Regions from separate parts of the Homo sapiens genome. Here all the other regions are reported to be linked to region 3. Evidence: microRNA targets listed by miRTarBase, many of them from high-throughput screens and not tested one by one. Region 3 holds a microRNA gene; each other region holds the end of a gene's coding sequence.
Evidence for each region. The annotated mature microRNA hsa-miR-466 reads AUACACAUACACGCAACACACAU and lies in region 3 at 4,154-4,176, opposite strand. An mRNA with a match to its seed (bases 2 to 7 or 8) in the 3' UTR can be bound and repressed. Matches are read on the target gene's strand: a 7mer-m8 pairs with bases 2 to 8, a 7mer-A1 pairs with bases 2 to 7 and ends in A, and an 8mer does both.

Region 1 (7,861 bases), not on the chromosome of region 3:
TAATACCAGAGAAAAACACTTGGGCAGTGCTCCCCTAAGGCTTTTGGGATAGCCCCCACTTCTTTGCCCAACCCTTAGAGAGGGATCTGAGGGGTCTGCAATTGGAGGATGGGAGTATACTCCAGTATGTGGATCACCTTCTTGTGTATAGCCCAACCCAAGAGGCTTCTGACCAAAATACTATAAAAACCTTACATTTCCCGGCTGACAGGTCATACAAAGTGTCCAAAAAGAAGGCTCAGATTACTCTCCAACAGGTCCACTGTTTAGGGTACATCTTAACACCTGGAACCTGCAAGTATCCCCAGAACGAGTGCAAGCCATATGTGGTTTGGGCCCCTCCACCCCAAGCAGCAGCTTCATTCTTTTTGGGGAATGGCCAGGTTTTGTGGAATATGAGTACCAAATTTAGGGCTCATAGCAAAGCCCCTGTATGAAGCAACAAGGAGGCCTGAAAATGAGCTAATGGAATGGACCCTGGAAATGAGAGAAGCCTGTGCCAAGCTAAAATAGGCCCTTACCCAGGCTCCAGCTCTTGGGATCCCAGACCTAACTAAGCCCTTCCCTTGTATGTAGCAGAGACGAATGGCATAGCTGTGGGAGTGCTAGTCCAGAAATTAGGATCAGAACCCAGACCAAACACCTACTTTTCAAAGAAGTTGGAGAGAGTGGCCTTGGGATGGCCAAGTTGCCTGTGGGTAACAGCAGCCATTGCTATGTTAGTGGAGGAAGCCACTAAAATCACCCTGAGCCAATCACTGGAAGTTCTAACCCCCCATCAGGTAAAGTCAGTCTTAGAGATAAAAGGACACATCTGGGTGATGGGGGAAAGGTTAACCAAATACCAGGCCGTGCTCCTAGACAATCCAGATGTAACCCTTAAAACCTGTAACACTTTGAATCCAGCTTCATTGATACCCATAGGCCCAATGACAGATCATTCCTGCGAGCCAGTCATTGCACATGCATATGTTAGCTGGCCTAATTTAAAAGATCAGCCTCTCCCAGATTCTGAGGACTTGTTCACAGATGGCAGTTCTGTGTCAAATGGGGAACACTGAGCTGTGTATGCAATAGTCAATCACAACACCCTTATCGAAGCCCAGCCACTGCCCCTTGGCACATCAGCACAAAAGGCTGAAATCATTGCTCTTACCCGAGCATTAATTTTGGGACAAAATAAAAAGCTTAACATCTATACAGATTCTAAATATGGCATTCCTTGTGGTTCACGCTTATGCTGCAATCTAGAAAGAAAGGGGACTACTAGCTAGCAAACCCTCCCCCATAAAGCATGGGCCTGAAATTCTTCAGCTATTGTAAACAATACACCTGCCACAGGCCATAGCTATAATCCATTGTAGGGGGCATCAAAGGGACTTAACTCCTATAGCACAAGGGAACAGAAAGGTTGATAGAGAAGCCAAAGCCACATCCCTCAGGGTGCAATCCCAACAGATCCTAGCACTGATTCCTTTCTATGATTCCCAGTGGATCCCAAATACACACTACAGGAAGAACAGTTAATAAAGGAGCAAGTGGGGCAAAAAAAAAAAAAAAAAAAAAAAGATCCTGGTGGTATATGAGATCAAAAATACATCTGCCTCAAACAGCCCAATGGAGAATTATAAAAACCCTGGATGACTCCTTCCATATGGGGAGAGATGCCACCCTGGCCATGGTTAACAGGCTCTTCATTGGGCCTAACTTAACTTCGGTGGTTAAGCAGGCCTGTCAAGCCTGCTCACTGTGTGCACTTAACCCAGGAAACAAAATGCCTCCTCTAATAGAACCAGACCAGAGGAGAGGAACTTACCCAGGGGAAGACTGGTAATTAGACTTCACCCATATGCCAGCTTGCAGAGGATACAAGTTTTTGTGAGTGCTAATAGATATCTTTACTGGTTGGGTCAAAGCTTACCCTACCAGAACAGAGAAGGCTAATGAGGCTATAAAGTTTCCCTTAAAAGAAATAATCCCCCGGTCTGGGTTACCTCAGAGCCTCCAAAGTGATAATGGCTCATCTTTTATCTCCCAAATAACTCAAGGGGTTGCTAAGGCTCTTGGAATCAAATACTATTTACATTCAGCATGGAGGCCTCAATCCTCCAGGAAAGTAGAAATGGCTAACCAAACTCTAAAATGAGTGTTAGCTAAACTATGTCAGGAAACATCAAAAACTTGGGTCAGCTTACTGCCTATAGCCCTCTTAAGGATCCGTAATACCCCTAGAGCAAAAATTAATATAACCCCCTATGAAATGTTATATGGAAGGCCATTCTTAACTAGTGATTTAATTACTGATCCAGAAACAGCCAGTTTAGCAAGATACCTAGTTAACTTAAGACAATTTCAGCAGGCTTTACAAAAGTTTGGAACTCAAAGGCCCCACCATACCGGGAACTAACCAGCAACCCAAAATCAGGCTAAGGGATAAGGTACTTGTTAAAACATAGAAGGAGGGATCACCTGCTCAACAATTGCAACCCCAATGGAAGGGACCGTTTTTAGTGGTACTGGCTATGCCTTCTATGGTCAAGGTACTAGGATTAGATAGTTGGATACATCTTTCAAGGATCAAGTCTGTGATACCTGAAGCCAGGGACCAGGAGCCTGAAGTTTCCATCAGACAGTCAAAAGACAAGTAAATGCCTACCAACTTTCCTTGGTGTTTTTGTTGCATAGTTACTGTAGGCTGGATAATAGCAGCCATGTTCTCAGATTTCTTGCAGTTTAGGTGCTTTCTTTCAAACGATTGGAATCACTTCCTTTGTAGTGACTAAGCAGACTGTTGTAATTCATTCCTATAACAAACATTCCTGACAGCATAGGTATCCACCCCCTGAAGTTCCCATTAAATCTTTTAACCAAATTCATTTCCTCTCACCTAGAGACCATCAAGTTTCAGATGATCCTGTGACAAGGTTTCCAGCCTGTTCCAAATGAAGGCAGCACCCCTGGCCATCAAGAAACTACCCAGTCTCCACTCGATAGATAAAGGCAGGAGTTCGGGGATCCCCAATAGGTAGGGACTGCACCTCAAGTCAGGGTGACGCAGTTACAGAAGAAAGACCATCAGTCACTCTGTCTCCCATAAAGATTTCTGGGGATCATGTCTCTCGGGGGAAATGAGGCAGGAGAATAGGGTCTGGAGGCAGGGAACCTAAGTTCGATGCATGCTGACTGGATATCAGAGGCTACTCCCTTTCAACCCCTCCTTTTTCTGCATGGCAGTTGCTGCCTGGCAGTTGGAAATGAAAGTACCTCGGATTGGTTCCCTCCCGCAACCAATCAGACTGGTTGCGGGCCACTACTTTATGTGCATAGAGTGAACAGATGGGAAACCCCTGGAGGGTATTTAAACCCCAGAAAATCCTGTAGCCCAGGCTCTTGAGCCTCTTGCTCGAGCCCGCTCCCACCCTGTGGAGTGTACTTTCGTTTAAAATAAATCTCTGCTTTTGCTGCCTTGCTTTGTGCATTTGGTCTAATTCTTTGTTCAAAATGCCAAGAACTTGGACAACTATCCTCAACTGGTAACAGACGCGGTGGGCATAGGCTCTTAGTGTAGCCTGCACATTGCACAGGAGGGAGTTGGAAGCCAGCGCTGGCCCCCTCCCCTCCCTGTGCAGCCCCCAGGACCCAGGTCATGTGATCAGGAGGAGGGGTGAGCCCCAGAGCCCTAAAAGCCTGGCTCTGGGTTGGGCCCAATACTGTTGGCCTGGTGGTGCCTGGGATTGGGGTGGGAGGGGTGGGAGGTGGGCTTCAGGAACCACCCCCCCAGCACCCCTTCGCACCCCGCCCCCCACGCCACCCTGCACCCTCTCACGCTGCGGGCCCCTCCCAGGCCCTTCATAGGCATATGGGGCTGGGCCAAGCGGCTCTGCTGGGGGAGGGAGGCTGGGGCTCAGATCAGCTGAAATCAAAGCCACAGCTCCCTCCCCGCCACGCCGCACCCCTGCCGAGCGCCGCGCACCTTCTCCTTTGTCACAATGTTTTTCAATCCGGTGAAGCAAACTGTCCAATTAGAGCCAGGGTCTCCGGCTTCCATCTTTGCCGACGTTTAATTAACATGCTCCTCTTGGCAGCTGCTGACAAGTTCCAGAAACAGGTTGTAAAGGGTTTTTGTCTTTACCCAGCATGGAAAATGAGGGGTGTTACATCGCGGGTACATGAATAGGTTGCATTTCAGATCCCTCCTTCCCCTCCCCCCTGCACTGGTAAGAGGCATGCAGCGGTGTGTGTGTGTGTGTGTGTGTGTGTGTGTGTGTGTGTGTGTGTGTGTGTGTGTGAATTGCAAGGGGGCGGGGAGGGCGGAGTTGGAAGCTGAGAGACCTCCTCCCTTTTCCCTCACCCCTTCTTCCCAGGAGCCTTTGCTCCACAAAAGATCCGGATTCCAAGTCTTATTCTCCAACTGGCACACTTCTGCCTCACATCTCTTCTAGCCAGTAGCAGACTTCACCGTGTTAATTCCTACCCATGGGTCTGTGCCCATGCTGTTTCTTTGCCATCCTTCTGGTAAACTCCTATTCAGCCTCCAGAACCCTGCTCAGGTGGCCCTGCTTTGAGAAGCCAACTGGGTACAGACTTCCTGTCCAGCCACACCTGTCAGAGTTCAGCATGGATTCTGAGGGTCAGGTCTGTCTCCCAGCTAGACTGTGAGCCCCTGAGGGCAGGAAGGTGTATTACTCTGCCCAGGGTGGTGGTGAGCCTGGGAGATCTACCCTCCTGAAACCTTACCCCACTGTCCAGGGAAAAGAAGGCTGGCTTGGCAGAGAGAAAGAAGGGAAGGGATGGGGAGGAGGAGATGGGCCCAAAGGAGCCCTCCCTCCCTTCTCGCAGTCCTGCTGGAGTGCCCAGAGCAGGACCACATGGAGGGCACAACAGAGATGCCAGCTTTCTCAAGGGCTGAGTTTCTGGAGTAGCTGATGGAGGGGCCTTGAAGCAAGACCCCAGCCCAGAGCTGAGCCCTGCTGGGTGCCCCAGGCTGAAGGCAGGCTCTAGTACCCAAGTTCTGCCTGTTCAGCCTGCAATGACTTTCCTCGCAGTGTGGGTGGTACCCTTGGATGAAGGTAAGGGCTGGGGCAGAAGCAGGTCTCTTGGGTCCTTTTCTCCCTCAAACTGGCCCCATTGGAGCATTCACACCATTTTACAAAGGACAACAAGAATGTTTATTCCTGGAGGCTGCCACGCACACAACACAGAGAGGTCTGGGGGACCCAGGGAGCATAGGAGATGCTGGCCGAGGTGCAGGCACGGGGTAGAAGAGCCTCATAGGTGGTGACTGGCAGCTAAGTTGTCTCCTGGGAGAGCTCAGGTTCACCCACCAGGTCCCAGCCCCACTTTGAGCCTGTTTTTCTCCAATGTGGCCAAGACCCCAGGCAGAGGCAGAACTTCTGCAGCCAGAACCCGGCTTGGATGCCCACTTTGTAGCTTCTCCTTCTCCATTCTCAGTCAGACCCCCTGGGATGAAGGGGAGGGCAGGGGTGGAGGCACCTTGAGGCCAAGCCAGCAGGTGGGGGTGCTGCTTGCTCACTCTTGCATCCCTAGCTAGGTCAGCACCAGCTCCTCTGGGCCCCAGGACAGTCTGTGGAGCCTGCAGGGAGACAGCCAAGAGCAGCGGGTCACTGCCGGGTCCTGCTGTAGCCTCTCAGGCACCATTTTCTTTTCTGGATGGGGTGGACATTAAAGGCAACTGGGCATAGCCTCACCTTCCTCTTTCCTGGCACCCTAACATCCTCTCTTGCCACATCACTCAGGCCCCAGACCCAGCTATTGCCAAGCTCTGGCCTCCAAGGAAGTTAAATAACAATAATAAAAACAGTAACAATGACCAGCAAGGACCCCAGTTTCTCCACTTGCTAGTTGTGTGATCTTGAAGAACCTGAACTTCTCCGAGCCTTAGTTTGCTCATCTATTAAAATGAGGGCAGTAATTCTACTTGCCTTGTAGAGATCTTGGGAAGGTTAGATGTGAAAGCCATGAGCAAGGGCTTGGTGCATTCCACAGAGGAGGCACAGTGTTAGTTGACGGAAAGAAAGAGGGGAGGGTGGGTCTCATCTGAGCTGAGCAACTGAATACAACCAGACGTGTCAGCTTCATTTTTATAGATGAGGAAATCGAGGCCCAGTCTCTGGGGTGAAGAGATTCTCAAAGTCACACACCAGCAGGCACAGTCACAAAGCCAAGTGTGCCCCCAGGTCTCCTTCCATATTCCTTCCAGGCCCTTGTGCCTTCACCTGTTCCTGTGTCTGTCCTGGATGCACGTTGTCTGACTCTAAGAAGCTCCCCTGCCAACCCCATGTGCCCACTGCACCTCAGGCAGGAGGGGTGGAAGCCCTCATTTCTTGATGTTTGCTTTTTGCCTCTTTGCTAGTAACATCTGATTCTGAGAGCTGGGCCCCCACTGGGAGAACCTCCCTGTCATCCCCCAAGCCAAGCCCATGCTCACCTGCTCCTCACCTGCCCTGGGAGCCTAGGGTACCAAGGGTACCGAGGAAGCCATGGGTAGTGGGGACACCATGGGTACTGAGGGTACTGAGGGTCCTGAGGGCTTGAAGGTGGGGTCCTCAGGGATGTAGACAGTGCTGTTCCCTTCAGGCATCTACAGAGAGAGGATGCAACTCTGAGGGCCCTGTCCCAGTCCAGGCAAGGGTGTCCCTGGTGACTAGAACCTGGAGCTGCAAATGGTGTGTGGCGAGCGCCACCTTGTGATCGCCGTGCGGATCACATGCCACGGAGAGCAGGGTGGTCCTTCAACACAGGAGTCCTGCCCCTACCCTATATTAGGCACTGTCCTGGGTGCTGAGGCATGGCAAGGAGGAGACAGTGTCCTTGCCCCATGAGAGCAATGGTGAGGCATTGCAGTGAAATACCCAGTGACAGTAAGAGTTGCAAATGCACACAACAGGCTTATAACCCAGCCTGGGGGATGCTGAGAAGTTGTGCTGAACCCACTTTTAAAAGATGAATTGGAGTAAGGGGCAGAGGCGGTAAAAGGTAGTATGGCAAGCTCTGTAAACTGCAGACAGGTCCGAAAATGGGGTGGGGAAGGTGCAGGGAAGGCCAGAAGTGGGTAGAGAGGTGGAGGGCAGGCAGGGCAGGTCAGCCCTGCCCTTGCCCCATCTGTGGTCCTGGGGAACACTGGTCCAATCCCCATCCTCTGAGAAGCCACCTCACTCCCAAGGTAAACCACTCAGGGCCTCAGGGACTGCCTGATAGTGTTCCTTCCATTGGCACAGAATTTTGTTATTCCCAACCAGGTACAGCCAGCCCTCCATACCCATGGGTTTTGTATCAGCAGGTTACACCTATCACAGGTTGAAAATATTTAGAAAAAGCAACAACAAAAAATGACAATATAACAATAAAAATAATAAAAACAAAAAACAATACAGCATTTACATTGTGTTAGGTATTACAAGTAATCTACAGATTACTTAAAATATGTGGGAGGATACATGTAGGCTTTTATGCAAATACTATGCCATTTTATATCAGGGACTTGAGCATCCCCGCAAGAGATCCTGTAACCAATCCCCTGAGGTTACTGGGGGACGTCTGTACTGCTCAAGGTATATAGAGCTGAGAGGTGTGAACTTGGAATAAATTATAAAGATCAAAACAGAACCAAGAGGGAACTTCTACATGGGGGAACTGATAACATTTCTGATTTATTTCGTTAGCGTAAAATCTGTTGGTTTCTAATTGTGGTGTCTAAAATAGTTTAAGTTCTGACTTTCTTAAATATAGAATAGAAATAATTATCCTGTGAGAAAAGAAAGTTTATTAGGAATGTAATAACACAGAACAATTCTTATGATAGAGTGGTAAGGAGAAAGAGACGGATACTAAATTGGGTGAA
Region 2 (7,871 bases), not on the chromosome of region 3:
CGATCTTCCCGCCTCAGCCTGCCATAGTGCTGGTATTATAGGTGTGAACCACCGTGCCTGGCCCTGGCCCTGCCCGCCTTGGGTTTTGATTATTAATTCTCTCTCCTCTCCCTATCAGAAGAATTTTGACTTAGTGAGCTATATTTTGATGCTCCTGCCAACTGGGAGTTCACTATTGGAGGCTACCATTTAGAAGGAGATTGTGGATAAATAAGAGGTGTATGGGGGGTGGTGCCAGCAGCATGGTGGGTTTTTTGTTTTTTTGTTTTCTTTTGAGACGGAGTTTCGCTTTTGTCACCCAGGCTGGAGTGCAATCGCGTGATCTTGGCTCACTGCAACCTCCGCTTTCCGGGTTCAAAAGATTCTCTTGCCTCAGACTCCCGAGTAGCTGGGATTACTGGCGCCCACCACCTCACCCCGCTAATTTTTGTATTTTTAGTAGGGTTTTCCCATGTTGGCCAGGCTGGTCTTGAACTCCTGACCTCAGGTGATCCACATGCCTCGGCCTCCCAAAGTGCTGGGATTACAGGCATGAGCCACCGTGCCCGGCCGAGCATGGCGATTTTTAGAGGAGGTCACTCTTAAGTCAGTACACAAGGTCTGAGCTTTCCTTCCCGTTACAGTCCCGAGCCTTCCTGAAGGACTATTACCGGGACCACAACATCGAGCTCTCCAAGCTGCTGTATAAGATGGGCCAGACACTTCCCACTTGGCTACGAGAGGACCTCCAGAACACCAGGTAGCCGTGGCCACCACAGCCAGACTGAACGTTTGTGAAAGCTGGGACATCCCACCACACGCTGAGCCAGACCTGCAGAGTGGGAAGCTGGACCAGGGCAGCTGCGCACTTATGAGCAATACTCTGTGGAGGTCTGGTGGGGCTGGGGGAGCACCCAGGCGGATCTGCAAGCACCTCGGAGCACCCACCGCTGGGTCTGCGGCCTAAGGGACCTCCCTCGCCAGCAGAGGTCCATTCCGTTCCCAGCTGCTCCTGGGGAGGCCGCTTCCTGGTAGGAGGGAGTCCACGAGACTCTTTTCTGTCCCTCACTGTGTTCCGCCGACTGTCCCCTCTCGTCACCCATCACTCCCTGCTTCCGCAGGGCGCCCCTCAGTATTCGCTGCCATATGTCCCTGTCCTCCAGGCTGTAGGGGAGGAGAGCCTGGCCGGGGGAGACAGACTGGACATTTCCCTGTTTCGAGCCAGGCTCTTCCAAGGGGCCAGCTGGGTCCCCGGAGTCAGTCCTAGGCTGGATGGGAGGGTGGCCCCCTCAAGAGGACTCCCAGCCTCCACATCTGGTTCCTACCTTCACATCTCACCCTCCCGTTCTGGGGAAGAATTTCTGGTTCCTACAGTATCCACTCCATCCTCAAGGCTTCCCGCAGGGCCTTGGGGCACTGCCTTGCCATCGGGCCCAGTTCTCCGGGCCCCACCTGCACCCCTTTCTTCCCCCTGGGATATGATGTGTGGTGTTTCCTGTGGTAAAAGACTGAGGCAGGCCAGGGGTCTGCCAGTAACATGTTCCCATGTACAGACACGGTCCCCACACCCTCCCAGCCTCAGGCCCAGGCAGACATGGGCGAGCTGGTGAGACTGCCAGCCACGGCTTTGCTTAGCCACCTGTGGCCGAGGGCTCTCAGAGACCCCCTTAACCTCCCAAATACTAAGAAGCTAAAATATTTTAATATTTTGTTTTTTTTTTTCTTGGTGCCAGAGTTTATACCCTGGGTGCTGGGGTCGCACTGTGTTATATATATATATATATATATATAATGTGTATATATATATATTCTATTTTTTTTGGTTGGGTTCGTTTTTAATTCAGTCCTACAAAATGGTGGTAAGCCCCAGTCTCAGGGGTCACCCTGTCTTAGAGCTAGAGATGAGGTGGCAGGGAGGGAGGCTGTGTCCTCAGTGGCCTGGGGCTGAGCAGACCTTAGGAAGGGGCCCTCCCCAGTGCCGTGGCTGCTCTGGGGCTACCCCAGGTGAACAGAGGTGGTGAGATGCGCAGGGAAGACCAGCTCTCTCCAGGACATCGGGCTGCGTGAAGTCCAGTGACCCTGAGGGGATTTTGGCCAAAGGAAACAGCCAGGGCTGGGCTAGGAGAGCTGGGGTCAAAAGCTGCCCCACCCACTCTCCCTCACATGGTGCTAGGCTGGGAGCTGCCCTGAGAGCTGGGATGCCCACCAAGGCCCACAGAACTGTCTCCAGGCCCTTGTAGACAGTGGGATCTCTGGGCTGATTTCTGGTTGGGGTCTGCTCCTACCCCACCCCATTTAACAATGTGAAGTGACTGAGGCTGGGGTGCCTCTCCCTGGCCCCCTCCAACTGCCAAATTCTGCTTCCCTCTGAACCCCAGGAAATACTTTCTGGAGAGGCTTGTCTTGTTCAGAAGACTCTAGCATCTTGGGGCTGGAAGGTCCTTTGACGGGTATGAAACAGGTCCAGAAAGGGGAGGTGGCCTGCTTGGCCGACGTCATGGAGCCAGCTGGGAGCAGGGCTGAGCGTTGAACCCGAGGCTCCCGGTTCCAAGTCCCATCGTGCTCCTCTTCCAATGCCACACTGCCTCTGAGCCCATCCTTGGGACCCTACTCTGTGCCAGGTTCCTGTCCCTTCCTCCGTCACAGCATGGTCATTCCAGGATATGGGGACAAACCACTCCTTCCCAGCCAGGGTGCCTTTGAGCCTTCTCATTCCGAGGTCTGCGTTTGCATCCCTGTCGTGTTCTCCCTCGAGGGGTCCTTCCCCAGCCTGTGGGGGCCTGGGTCTGTTCTGAGCTGATTCCCTTTTCTCCAGTTCTCTGCTGGGATGAAGAAAGTTGGACACTCAGTGGGACCAGCTGCAGGTGGTTTCACTGTGTACACAGCAGTGTCCCCATCATGCCTCTCAATGGGGCCTGCAAGCCTGGGAACTTGGGCATCGTTGGGCCAGCAGGATGAGCAGCAAAGGGTCTGAGGACAGGGTGGCATGTCTGCTTGTGTGCTCATGAAGACATGCCCACGCCATGGAGCCAGGGGCTTATAGAGAGGGGCAGTGACTTCCAGAGTCCCATCCGTCAGTGAGGGGACTGGGCTGCGGGATGGGTGAGGATCTTACAGCTCCCAGGTTCGGAAATCTACCCTCTAGGCCTGGAGGCCTCTCTCGCAGAGCATGGAAGGCAGGAGAGGTGGGCTGGCCTAGGGCAGGAGCTCCACTTCTCTCTGCCTCTGGCTATGGGAAGGAGCAGGCGGTTGGAAATCCTGTGACAGCAGAGATCTTCTGGATTTTTGCCTGGACCCTTCTGCAAGCCTGGAGACTGGACCTGCCACATGTTCCAAGTCTGTCTGCCTAGGTCACTGCTGCCACTTCTCCTCCCACTAACAGACCTTTCTTGAAGACCCACTAGGTCCAGACACTGCCGGGACTTGCAGGTATGGGGGGTAGAAGGAGAGGCAGATAAGCTGCCTGGGGGGCTGTTAGCTAATGGGTACAAGGACACCCCCTCCCGAGAAGAGAAGCCACAGATGAGTGGGCCAGCGAGGCCAGTCTTCAATGTCCACTAATTCACTCTAAGCATTTGGCCAAAAAAAGGAGAGAGAAATAACTGAAATTGTTCAGGTGGCTCCATCGTCTATTCTGTGGTCCCCTCCATGAGCCTTTGCCCCAGGGTGGGTGCAGGTGCGAGTGTCACCTGCAGCTGCCTCAGTCATTCAGAGTTCCAGAGCCTTCTGTGGTGGAGCATCCTGCTGCTTGGAGGATGAGTCTGAAGTTTAAAAATGGGCCTTTTCTGAGCCCCCCTGATGAGCAGTCAGTGCTTCTGGGCCCAGCTAAGGAAGCCATCTGTTCCCAGCAGAGGAGAGCTGCTGCGCTGACCTGCAGAGGTTGGTGGTCCCAGCACAGAGCTGTGCCCATGGGCTTGTTAGTGGGAAAAGCAAATACAACAATGTTTTACCAAACATTTAATTATGAATGCCCACTCCCCAGCATCTAGATCTAAAATTATTAACATTTTGCCACATTCTTTTTCTCTCTCTGTGTATGTATATGTTTTCTCTGTCCTAATTTAAAAGTACATTGCAAACATCATGAAACTTGATCCCTGAAAGCTTCAGCCTGCATCTCCTAAGAGTTAGGGCATTGTCCTACACATTGGCCCAGTATCACAGCCAAGACGAGAAGTCATTTCCCAGCGATGTCTGCTATCTAATCTGTATTCAAATCCCCCCAATTGTCTCCCAGGTAACTTATGTGTCTGGTTTTGGAATCAGCATCCAGTCACGGTGCACACATTGCATTTTCTAACTATGTTTTTAAAACCTCTTTGAATGCTGAAAGGTCTTCCCTCAGCTCACTTTGAGTTTTTAAATGACATTGTTTTTGAGGCCCTAGGCCTGCTGTCTTTTTGAAGCCCCACATTCTGAATTTGTCAGATTGTTTGCTCATGGTGTCGCATAACCACTTCTTCTATCCCCTGTACTTTCAAGGATAATTTAGGCTACATGAGATTTTGCCTTTTGTGCTGACTTGACAGCTTCACTTCTGCCTAAGATGCGCCTCCACTGTCACCTGTACCAAGTGCCAAAACAGCAGAGGGGCCAGTTAGAGCAAGAGCTCTGGGGGGGCCGGAAAGTCTCCCTGGAGAAGGCCGTAATATCTGGGCCTTGGAAGGAAGGACACAGGGCTCTGGAAGGAGGAGGCTGCATGCCTGAAGGCTGGGCCTTCGACCCTGGGGATGGGCCACAGGGCACCAAACACATCATATGTCTCTCTCTTTCTATTTTGGGGTCCCAGGGTTTTCATTTCCTGGAGACCCGTGGTCTGTGTGCACTGGAGCAGAGCCAGGCTCTCAGTTGCAGCAGGGAAAAGCCTACATGGGGAACTGCCTCCCGCAAGCTGTGGTGTGAGAAGAGCCCTGGCTGGCAGCAGGAGCTGTGAAGTTTCATCCCAGCCGGGTGCATTTAGTAGCTGCCTGACCATCTTCCTCCCAGGCCCTCAGTTTCTTCATCTGTAGAATGAGCAGATAGGGGCCACAGCAGGGATTTTCACACATCAAAGGAGGCAGCCTCTGCTCTAGTTGATGTGAGGATGAGGGGGCGGCCTAGACCCCCTGCTGCCCAGGCCGTTGAGGCAACACTGGGTTCCTGGCTTGACAGCTGTGGGCTGGCTGCCCTTGCCAGCTCAGACGGCTGGCGAGTTTTCAGCTTCCCTAAGGGACTGGCATAGGGTTTTGTGGGGTCAATGCCAGGAACCTGGGGGAAACTGGATGCGTTTTATCCTAAGAAGTTCATCCCTCCTGCTCTTACTGTTTCCGGCCCTGGAGGAGAATGAGGGAGGAGAGGGTTTTCTATGACTGTGTTAGCTTTTATTATTAGCAAGAGGGCTCCTTTTGTAATTTGTGCATGAAATTCATGTCATTTCCTGGGAGAGGAGAGGGCCGACTGGAGAGGGTGGGGGGCACACTGGGGAAGCAGGCAGAGGTTTCCTTCCCTTGTAGGGGGGTGGGGAGAGTGGGGAGAGGGGGTGCTATCCAGTTCGCCTGATGAGGGCTCTCGAACCAGCCGTTTTGGGTTGTGTTAAAGGTGAGACCTTCCTCCATTAATGTACAATCTCGAACTAACTGCTAATAAAGTGGGGTTCTGTTTGTACACCTTGGTCCTGTCTGACCTTTTTGCAAGGCCCGCAGGGAAGGGTGGAGTAGGGGTGTTTGCATGCACGGCCAAAGCCCGCTTGTCCCTGCCACCTCAGGCATGCACACGTGCCCACATGTATGCACACACCTATACACATGGTGACTTGGTCAACGCAGATCATTTTCACTGGGTTATAAATGGAAGATTTCCCAGATACAGCAGAGGCCTATCCTAGGGCAGCCACAGGGGGCATCTCAGGTGATAGAAGCCCTCAGACAAGCTGGATTGCTCAGAAGCCCTGGGTGTCGGGCACTGGACCGAGAGGAGACTTGGGGGCTGGAACAATTTCTGCTACTAATGTATATTGTAGCTGGGGGCAAGCCACTTTTACTGTTTTATCCCATTTCCCTCACCTTTTAGACGCATGGAGGGAGTTGGACTCCATGGCCTCACTTGAAGAACTTGCCTAAAACATGCAGATTCCCAGGTCTACTTCCAGAGATTCAGCTCCAGCAGATGTGGGGTGGGGCCCAACATCTTTAAGGAGCCCTCCAGTACACTGAGGAATTTATAAGGAGCCCTCCAGTACACTGAGGCAGCCCAGTGTAACTCTGGCTCAGAGTGGGAAACTCTGACTCAGATCCATGGTTCCTATGGGTTCTAATTAATACGGAGAGCCCCACTGTCCAGGAAAACTTAGGGTAAAACAAATGACTGAAGCCCTCACAGCCTAATTGAGGGCCAGACTCGAGATTTGCCTGGAGAAGGAGAGTTCACAGGTAGGGGCCCAGGCCAGTGTCTGCAATGCAGGTGATCAGACATGCTCCTTCAGAATCCCCTTGGGAAGCTTTAAACAATATACATTCCTGGGCTCCCCCAAAATCTGCTCACTCAGAACCTCTGGGGTGGGACCCAGCACTGTGTACTTTAACAGACTCCTTGGTGTTCAGGGAAGTTTGGGAACACTGAATCAGGCCACCATGTTTGTCAGAGACGGTACCCAGAAATGTGCACAGCTTCTGAGGGACAGAGGAGGGGCATGCTGGGGACACAGCTGGGCAGTCCTGCTTCCCAGGACCCAGTATGTTCAAAGTGAAATACCACAGTGCCACCTCTGATGGCACAAGGGCAGCACCTGCAGAGCCCTCTTTGCAGTTCGTCAGCTGGGAGCTTGGTTTGGGTCAGGTGGCCCTCACCAGCAAGAACACAGCTGGAGGCTGCATGGACAAGAGCAGATCCAGAGGCATGGTGCAGAAAGGTGACTGTGCCAACTGAGGGGTCAGCCTGCAACAGGGATTTTTGAATTTACATACAGCTGAGATTCTGTTTTGAAAGAATCACTTAATTGAAAACCAGGTAAAGGTGGGGGTGCTCTGTGGTTGGAGTGGGAGTGAAGCTCTGGACTCTTCCCAGCTCACCTCCTCCCTGTCTCTCAGGCTATCTTGGAACCCTAAGATTTCTCAAAACACATTGTGAAAACCCAGCCCAGTTGCTTCCAGAGGTCCTAAAAGTCCTGCAGTTCTAATAGGCTGAATGAGTAGCAGCCCATCAGCCCCTCCTCACCCCCCACGGGGATGTCCACCCAGTAAATCTGGTGCCCCAGGAGTGGTTTGGGCTTCTAGAGGTGGGGAGTTACCTTGGAGAAGCCTGGATCATGCGTGTAGGGCAGTGTGTTTCACAATAGGAAAACGCTGGGAACAACCTAGATGTCCATCCACAGGGTCTCAGCTAGGTAACCTCCAGTGTATCCATTCACTGTAATGATGATTCAGTTGAAAGTAATGAGCTCAGTCTCCAAGCCCTGCCAGGGAAATTTCTATGACAGACTTATACAATGTGACCATCATGGAAAGAGAACACTACAGTTTGTATTTTTCCTGGGGTTGTAGATAGACGTCTCATATCAAACTGATACTAGGGGAGGAAAGACTGAGAAGGGGAACTTTCAAAGGAGACTTCAGCCTTGGCTGAAATATATATAAGACAAGGATAATGCATTTGCATATCATTTGTGGAATGAAAAAGTCTTAATGAAAAATAGAAATGGACAAAGCAGAAAGGGGGACTCCAAGCAGCTAGACTTACATGACGATGCGATGAAGGCCAACACTGCTTTACCCAGCCCTTAAGCTCCTATGGAGTTAGGATCTGGAGGAGGCCTAGGTGCCGGTGATCAATTTCTTGCCTGGCTGCATTTATCCTAAGCATTCGTGAAGACCCTGAGCTGAGGATCCTGACTTTCCTGTGACTGTAGGCCAGTCTCA
Region 3 (8,046 bases):
CTTATATTATTCCCATGTTGTAGCTAATGAAACTGAGGAACAGAGAAATTAAGCAGCTTGCTGAAGATCACACAAGTATCAGAGCAGGTAAATAAATAAACTATAGTGGCCTAACTCAAGAGTCCAGTTTTTAAACCATTCATGAGAGGAGTTATCATATATCTCAATCTGGGCCCTGTTAACCTGTCTAGGGATAGTTCAAAAATTACATTAAAATTATTGTATGTATATATATTTTGCTAGGAAGGGGATCCATAGGTTTCCTAAGATTCTCAAAAGAATCCCTGGCACAAAGTGCATAAAAAGAAGAAGAAACAATCCTGCTATGTGACTGTCATTCCTAGGGACTATAAAGCAACTTCCAGAAATCTTTCTTGAGAGGCATTGAAGGTTATAGAAATTTGGAACATTTTTTGTTATCATAATATGCTCATTTAAAACTCATCACCTCTATGACATCTTCTCTGTATTATTTAAACTTCCTTCCAACAAGGTGAGAGCACGGTGCTGGCAGGGCAAGTGGTGACCCATCCAGAGAACTGTGAGTGTCAACAGTCCCTCCAGTCCAGGGGTTCAGGTGAACAGCTGAGCATACAAGTTTAGGAAAACAAGCTCACCTTCAACAAAGCATGTAAATAAAAATAATTCAAGCCTGATCCATAAGGATTTCCCTCAGGTAACGAAGTCCTTCAGGCTGAAGCTCAGTCATTTCCAGGGAGGGCTGAGTCACATTTAGATTCTTCCAGGTACAAGTTTCCTCAGTTGAGGTGGTTGGATTCGCCAGGCCTGGATATTTGCAAAATGCCCTGCTTGCCTTGATTAATGACTTTCTCCATAAAGCCAGTCTTGGTGATGACATGACAAAGCTCCTCTGTCCCTGTGTGTTAATAGTACAGAGAGACCATTAACTGCTGGCAAGTATCCCAAAATTGCTCTGAAGATGTAGAGGAATTCTAATGAAATGTAAAGCATTCATCAGAAAGGAGCATAATAGATTTTTCAAAGCTCATGCTCAGTACTTCCACTTAACAAATGCAATACCATCCCTCTTTAGGAAATACACGCATTTCCCATGGAAGAAAGAAAAATATTTCAAATGGTCCTCTTCATTTTTCTGTATTTTCTAAATTTTAGGTTATAAACATGTACTAATAGTATTGTTATAAAGGAAAAGAATTCATGGAAAATTTTAAAAATTTTTCTAAAGTCATGCATTCTTGTGGTTCCCAAAAGTGTTTTATTGTCACATAAATAGGGGAAATGCACTCAAATGCAGAGATACTGAATTAGTAACCCTAGTGCTGGGGGTCTAGATTCTCGGCAAGTGGCATCCAGAAGTTCAGTTTATGTCAAGTATTCTTGCTTATAATTGACACAGTTGGTTACCCACCCAATACATTTCATGTCTTTCTTTTAATAGCCCCCAGATATTATTTGAATAGCTACCTCTCTCCATGCATCCCATATTATTTCAGAATAAGCTCAAACTTCCCCCTCACTCCAATAGTGGTCCCTGGTTGGTTTTACTCAAGCATGAGTTCAAGGGTGGGCCTGTGACCTGTGCAAGCCAATCAAGGTTGATTGTAGGACTCTTGCTCAGAAAGCTGGGCCATAAACCCGCTGTACCCTGCCAGCATTGAACAGAAACCGTATTATCCCAATGCCTATGACAGCCATCTTAAAGCCATGAGGGCAACCAGACTTAGGAGGAAAATGACACCGTGAGAGCCATAGAAGGGAGATGGAAAGAAACTAAATCCATAGTGCTACCCTCAAACTGCTGGATCAACCAATCATGGACGCGTTATTGCCTCTGCATGCTCAGGTTCCTAAAGTAATAAATCTCTTTCACTGAAAAGGTCAATTGAAATTAAATTTTCTGTTCCTTGCAACAGGATATCCTAGCTCATATGCAACTCCTTACAGTTATTGGTTTCAGTTGCAACACAGTGTATCAGCTGATTTAATTCAGTCCAGCATTTTTTTTTTTTTTTTGGCATACCAAGATTGGACTTTAGCCATCCTCATGGCAATCAAGTAATGTTTACCTATTAAAAAAAATAACTGATGCCGTATACTTCAGGACTTTCTTCCCATCAATGATTATGACCATAACCAACATTCCTCTATAACAAGACTCTGGTTTCAGTGTTTCATACCTCCATAGATGTCTCAGAATCAGCCCCATCCTGCCTTGAGGTCTCTAGTTCTGTCTCGTTACTTCTGACCTGGACCTTGACTCCTTGCACAACTGTTTTAAACTGACCCTCTATTGGGATAGTCTATGTTATTTTTCAGTTCACTTTTACCCCAGATGTTGACTTTCAGATATGCTTAGCTTTCTTATCCATCTGCCATGATCTAGCCCAACCTGTCACAATGCCAGGATGCACAAACCCTGGAGTGCATCCAGAGAATTGGGCAGTCTGAACTGGAGATGCTGGAGATACAATAAATAAGCATCAATCTCTATAAGTAAAATGAGAACATTGGACTTAAGATTACTCTGAAATGTCTTCAATTTATAAGATGTAAGAGGCTAGAGACATAGCCCTTACTCTTGAGGTATTAACAAGCCCACTACTCAGTAGGATGCTGATAATTAGAGGACTCAGTAATCAACATTTTCAAATAGCACTTTTCTGTGTAACAACTGAATAGTGTTGAATCTACTCCACAATTGTTAGAAATAGGACACATATTACTTAGCATTTTCAGCTTTATTTTTCAGAATGTAGGACATATTTTAATAATACAAAAAATGTTCTAATATAGAAAATGCCATAATATCACTATCTTGGTTAATCCCCACAGTAGCCTCACCACCAACAGGGAACATTCTTTGCATATCATAAAAGACTACTGGAGATTTATCCATTTTCTACCTCTGTGGCCACATACCTTACTTACTATACCTGTCTCAAATCCTACACTCCAACCTAACCAGATCACCAACAGTCCCTGGAAGTCACAATTTTGTCTTTATCTTTTCTTTTTCTCTAACCAGAATACTTATACCCAACTTCTTCATCCAGTGGGTATACTCATCATTCAAGACCCAGCTAAATTCTTTCCTCCTCACATACGCCTTCTCTGATCTTCTGAAAGTTGTGGCCGCACCTTCTATGTAGAAGACAGACAGTGAAAGAAAGATTTCAGAAAAGAGCTGCAAGCCATTTGAAGCCTGGAAATTGCACCAGTGATGCTTCTTAGTGAATGCTTTAGGCTTTAACCAGCCAGATCTACAACTTCTCCTTTGCAACGGAGCCAGGAAGCAGAATGGAAGAATGGACAAAAAGGTAGATGCTCCTCCCTGCAGTGTATTACCAAATTAGAATTCAGGCAGAAGTTCCCTCTCCAACATACAGTACCTAAAAAAATTTTGTATTGTACATGTGCATATAATGGATCGCAGAAGTCTGTGTTGTTCAAGTATAGTTGAACAAGTCTGTGGGCCCCTAACTCAAACATTAGGTTTATGACAGTAAGAACAATAACCTCTCCATAGCACAGGGCCTGCTATAACATAAGCACTCAATTAATATTTTTTCTTAATAAAAGTGAATGAAGGACCAAATAAAAAATAGTCTTTACATCGAATAAAAGAATACCAAGTGCTAGTGAGAATGTGGAACAAAGGGAACTCTGATCATTAGTGAGTGTCAATTGGCACAATCACATTGGAAAACTATTTGGTAGCTCTTCCTATAACTAAATGTAAAACCATGTCCCAGTAATTCTACTCCTGAGTATATACCCTAAATAAATGAGTACATATGTCCACCAGAAGACTTTGACAAGAATGTTCATAGAAGCTTCATTCAAAATAGACAAAAATTAGAAACAACCCAATTGTTCATCAACAATAAAGTGGATAAACAATGGTATATTATGGGTAGCAGAATACTACTCAGCAAGAAAAAGGATAAATGATTGCTAAATAGAACAACATAGATAAATTTTAGAAGTACAATAAAGAGCAAAAAAGACCAGACCTAAAGGAAGACATAAGGTATGATGATTCCATTTGTGAATTATGACCGTGAATATCAATACGAAGTTAAAAAACAGACTGAGAATAGGCAAGGCTGTGGTGTTGTAAATGTTCTGTATCTTGATCTAGGTGCCATTACGTGGGTGTGTGCATGTATATATGTGTGTTGCGTGTATGTGTATGTGTACATATATACACACATATACACACATGCAACACACATATACACACACATACAAATATACACATATAAAAGTTCATAAAGTTGTACATTTAAAGTTTTGTATACTTAATACATATGTTATACATATATGCAAATTTTTAACAACTTGAAGGGATTTCAGATTCATTTCATTTTCTGGTTGAACTTGAGAGAACACAGTGAGAAACTGCATCAGAGTCAAAAGTTCAGAATTAGAAGCAACACTTTCCTTATTTTACAAATGAGAACACAGAGCCCAAAGACATTAACTTAACCAGTGACCACTTTTCTTGTTAGTCACAGAGCTAAGCCAATATGTTTTCATTACCCCATGCCTTCCAGTACACACACACACACACACACACACACACTCACAAAACAAACTGTGGGCATGAATGTGGAATGGAGAGATGGCAGGGAAGCCTGTAGAAACAAAAGGGGTTTTCTCTAAATCTCATCCTCCTCATTGCCCCTTCCCCATTTCTCCTTCCTTTTCCTTTCCTTAATTCCAGGCATTGTTGACTTCTCTCATCTTCCCTGGTGCTTATTCTGCCTTTCTCTACAATTACCCATCCCAACCAAACACAACTCTATCTTAGTGGATCTCAGGGCGGTCCTCAGATGATAGAAATGGAAAAGTAGATAAGCACAAGTCATGTTTCTTTAAGATATATTTAATACAGTTGTACACTTATTTACATCACATCTCATTTCCAAAAGGTCAGCTTGGAAAAATCCATATATTACAAGATGGTAAATACTGAGGAAATTGCTGTAGGAAATATCAGAATTGGAGGAATAAGATGACTTGAGTAAAATGCTTAGGGTAGGGAGATTTTTTTCATGCTTCTACAACTCTAATATCAAAGTCAGGAACTGCTGCTGTACCTACCTCCCCAGTGGAATTTCCTTTGCAGAGGATCCTGAAAAGGAAGATTCTGATCCAGAGACCTCCTTTCTTTCTTTCTTTCTTTCTTTTTTTTTTTTTTGAGATGGAGTCTCGCTCTTGTTGCCCAGGCTGGAGTGCAATGGCGCAATCTCAGCTCACTACAACCTCTGCCTCCTGGGTTCAAGCAATTCTCTGCCTCAGCCTCCCAAGTAGCTGGGATTACAGGCTCCCCCCACCACACCCGGCTAATTGTTATATTTTTAGTAGAGATGGGGTTTCAACATCTTGGCCAGGCTGATCTTGAACTCCTGACCTCGTGATCCACCCGCCTCAGCCTCCCAAAGTGCTGGGATTACAGGCATGAGCCACCACACCCACCCAAGACCTCCTTATTTTACAATGAATTAGAGGAAATAAAGGCCTTATTTTAGTTGGCCCTGAATATAAACCTAAGAAATATGAAATTATGCCTGCCATCTAAATTACCTAGCTGCTTCCAAGGTGCTGTTGAGTTGTAAACAAATTAAAGAGAAAGCATAATTTGATCAGAGACATGTTACAAAGGACTCCTCCCTCCACACTAGCTCAGAAGCCTCAGGACACGAGCACTAGATTCAACCATGCCAATCAAATTGCCATGTGGTGGGCCTCTACTATGTTTACAAAATGATGCACGGAATAAAACATATATTAAAATTGGGTTGTGGGAAATAAACCACCATTCCAAATGTCGACAACACAGAAGCCAGGAAATACACATTTCAAGTATTCTCTTTTTATTGCTCATTCATCCAAGTTTCACATGTAAAACCAACATCCTAGAAACCAACCAAAGAGTTTAAAATGCTACTTGCTACTAATGCAAGAATGGGGTCATTAATTCCTGTCTATTATCTCTTACTGTTGTCTGAGGAACCTCAGATAATACACCTTAACTTAGTTAAATGAAAATTAAGGTCTGAGTTTTTGTTTTTCATTATGAAAAACAGAATGGAAAACAAAAGATATTTGAAGACTATAAAAATCCTTGAATGGTACAAATATTTAAAAATTCTAAGTAGTCGTTAAAAGAATTCATGGCCCAGTAGAGGAGAGTGGGTTCAGGGTGTGGACAAAATGAATCCTTAGAGTTCTTTCCAGCCGGTAGCTACTTCCACACAATTATGATTCCTAATTAGTCCATGACCCAATCTTTAGATTTGCACATCTGATCTCCTAATTTAAAATTACATTTGTAAATGTTTATATTTTTATTATCTTAGTGGTTAAAACCTGGGACTCCACAGACAGTTGGACTTGGGTTTCAATTCCAGCTCAAAAATGTGTTAATGATGTAATCTTGGGCAAGTTAATTAACTTCTCTTAGCCTCAATTTTCCTGTCTGTAAAAGGAATATACAAATAATATTCTCAATAAATTATTATATTTGCAAATAATTTATATGAATAAATTATAACTAAATATTAAATAATATAAAAATCTCTCTATAGGGGTTGTTGTGAGGATGGCATGGTAGTAGGAAGTGCAGTCATTGTTAACATCAACATCATTATCTCCATGATCATATTCACTCCTACCGTCATAATGAATTTTTGCAAAAAACATAGAGGAAATCATCTTCATTTTCTTAAAAGAAAAATAGCCCACCCCAAGGAAACAGATGAGGGCCATTCATATATATATATATAATTAGTAAAGTAGTAAAGGCCAGTTTTGCCAGACTTAACCTTCCAGAGATACATTATGGGAGCTGTGCTAAAAGGGAATATAAGGGAAGTATATCACAAAGCCTAAGAATTTGTGGTAACTAGTAACAAAAACTGGGACAAAAGGAAACACATGCCAGCAAAGCAGGCTCAGGATTCTCTGAGGAAAGTTAGCAAAACCTGGACCGTGCAAGAAAGAAACCAGACTAAACCAGTGTAAAGGCCACTTGCTTGGGCTCAGTGTCTGAAAGTCAGCACTCCCTCCTTAGGGTGGAGACTTCAAGGTTATATCAGAATTTACTACATAACTTTTGTTGTGAGTTGTTACAGTGCTTTAAAGCTCATACAGTATGTAGTCAGTGTAACATAGTACTAAATTTAGGGTGCGGATTTGGTCACTCTTAGCTAATCTTTTTTATTGTCCCAAGAACATCCCAGGATTAAAAAAAAAAAATCTGAGAATGACTATAGATAGAAAATTGGAACCTGATGAACTGACGGTTTTATTTATAGTCCTAGAGTGGCCAAAATCAGATGAATACCTGATTTGTGCGTTCAGACACCGCATGTTATAACATGAACTGCTTTCTTCGACTCTGAAATAAAGTGAATCCTATTCATGGCAATCAGTTTAAAGTAATTCTTTAAGACACTTAATATTTATTTATTTATTACTATAAGTTCTAGAGTACATGTGCACGACGTGCAGGTTTGTTACGTATGTATACATGTGCCACGTTGGTGTGCTGCACCCATTAACTCTTCATTTACATTAGGTATATCTCCTAATGCTATCCCTCCCCCCTCCCCCCACCCCACGACAGGCCCCAGGGTGTGATGTTCCCCATCCTGAGGACACTTAATATTTAAAGCAGCATAATGTATTGCTTTCTAGAAAGCCCCAAATTCATGAAATCTAGCAAGCAGAAGTCTTGTCTATTTAACCAGCAATGAGGCATACAAAGAAGTTTTCCAAAAATAACAAAAACCAGAAATTACTTCTTCCTGGAGCTGCAGGGAATCATATTTACCAGCTTCACTGAATAATCAACTAAAAGTGGAATTCCTGAAGAAACACTGGCCATAACCAACAAGATACAGAAATCAACATCACGTGAAGCTATTGAGGCCCGTAGAGCAGTCACTACCCTGCAGAGATCAAAGGAAAGAAAACACTTCATTCTAGGAGCCTGAGAGCCACGCACGTCCAAGCGCTCTTATCCACACTCTCCTCATAGCTCTGCTGCAGATACCA

Region 1: the mRNA of RHCG is a reported target of hsa-miR-466. The part of its 3' UTR that is shown has no 7-base or 8-base seed match.
Region 2: the mRNA of NDST1 is a reported target of hsa-miR-466. Seed matches in the 3' UTR shown: 7mer-m8 at 1,771-1,777.

What each region holds. Positions count from the first base shown.
Region 1 is chr15:89,466,263-89,474,123 of GRCh38, forward strand. RHCG (Rh family C glycoprotein) reads right to left here. Exons shown (of 11, transcript NM_016321.3): 10 at 6,449-6,601; 11 at 5,145-5,593. The coding sequence ends at 6,473. LOC105370964 (a long non-coding RNA gene) reads right to left here and starts at 3,010. Exons shown (of 3, transcript XR_932600.4): 1 at 2,888-3,010. It overlaps LOC112268153 (a long non-coding RNA gene), which reads left to right. Exons shown (of 2, transcript XR_002957725.2): 2 at 2,892-3,469.
Region 2 is chr5:150,552,590-150,560,460 of GRCh38, forward strand. NDST1 (N-deacetylase and N-sulfotransferase 1) reads left to right here. Exons shown (of 15, transcript NM_001543.5): 15 at 624-5,622. The coding sequence ends at 743. Among named protein-coding and RNA genes, the nearest start is that of NDST1, 48 kb to the left of the region's middle. RefSeq lists an enhancer at 4,519-4,688.
Region 3 is chr3:31,157,561-31,165,606 of GRCh38, forward strand. MIR466 (microRNA 466) reads right to left here and starts at 4,227; the gene lies at 4,144-4,227.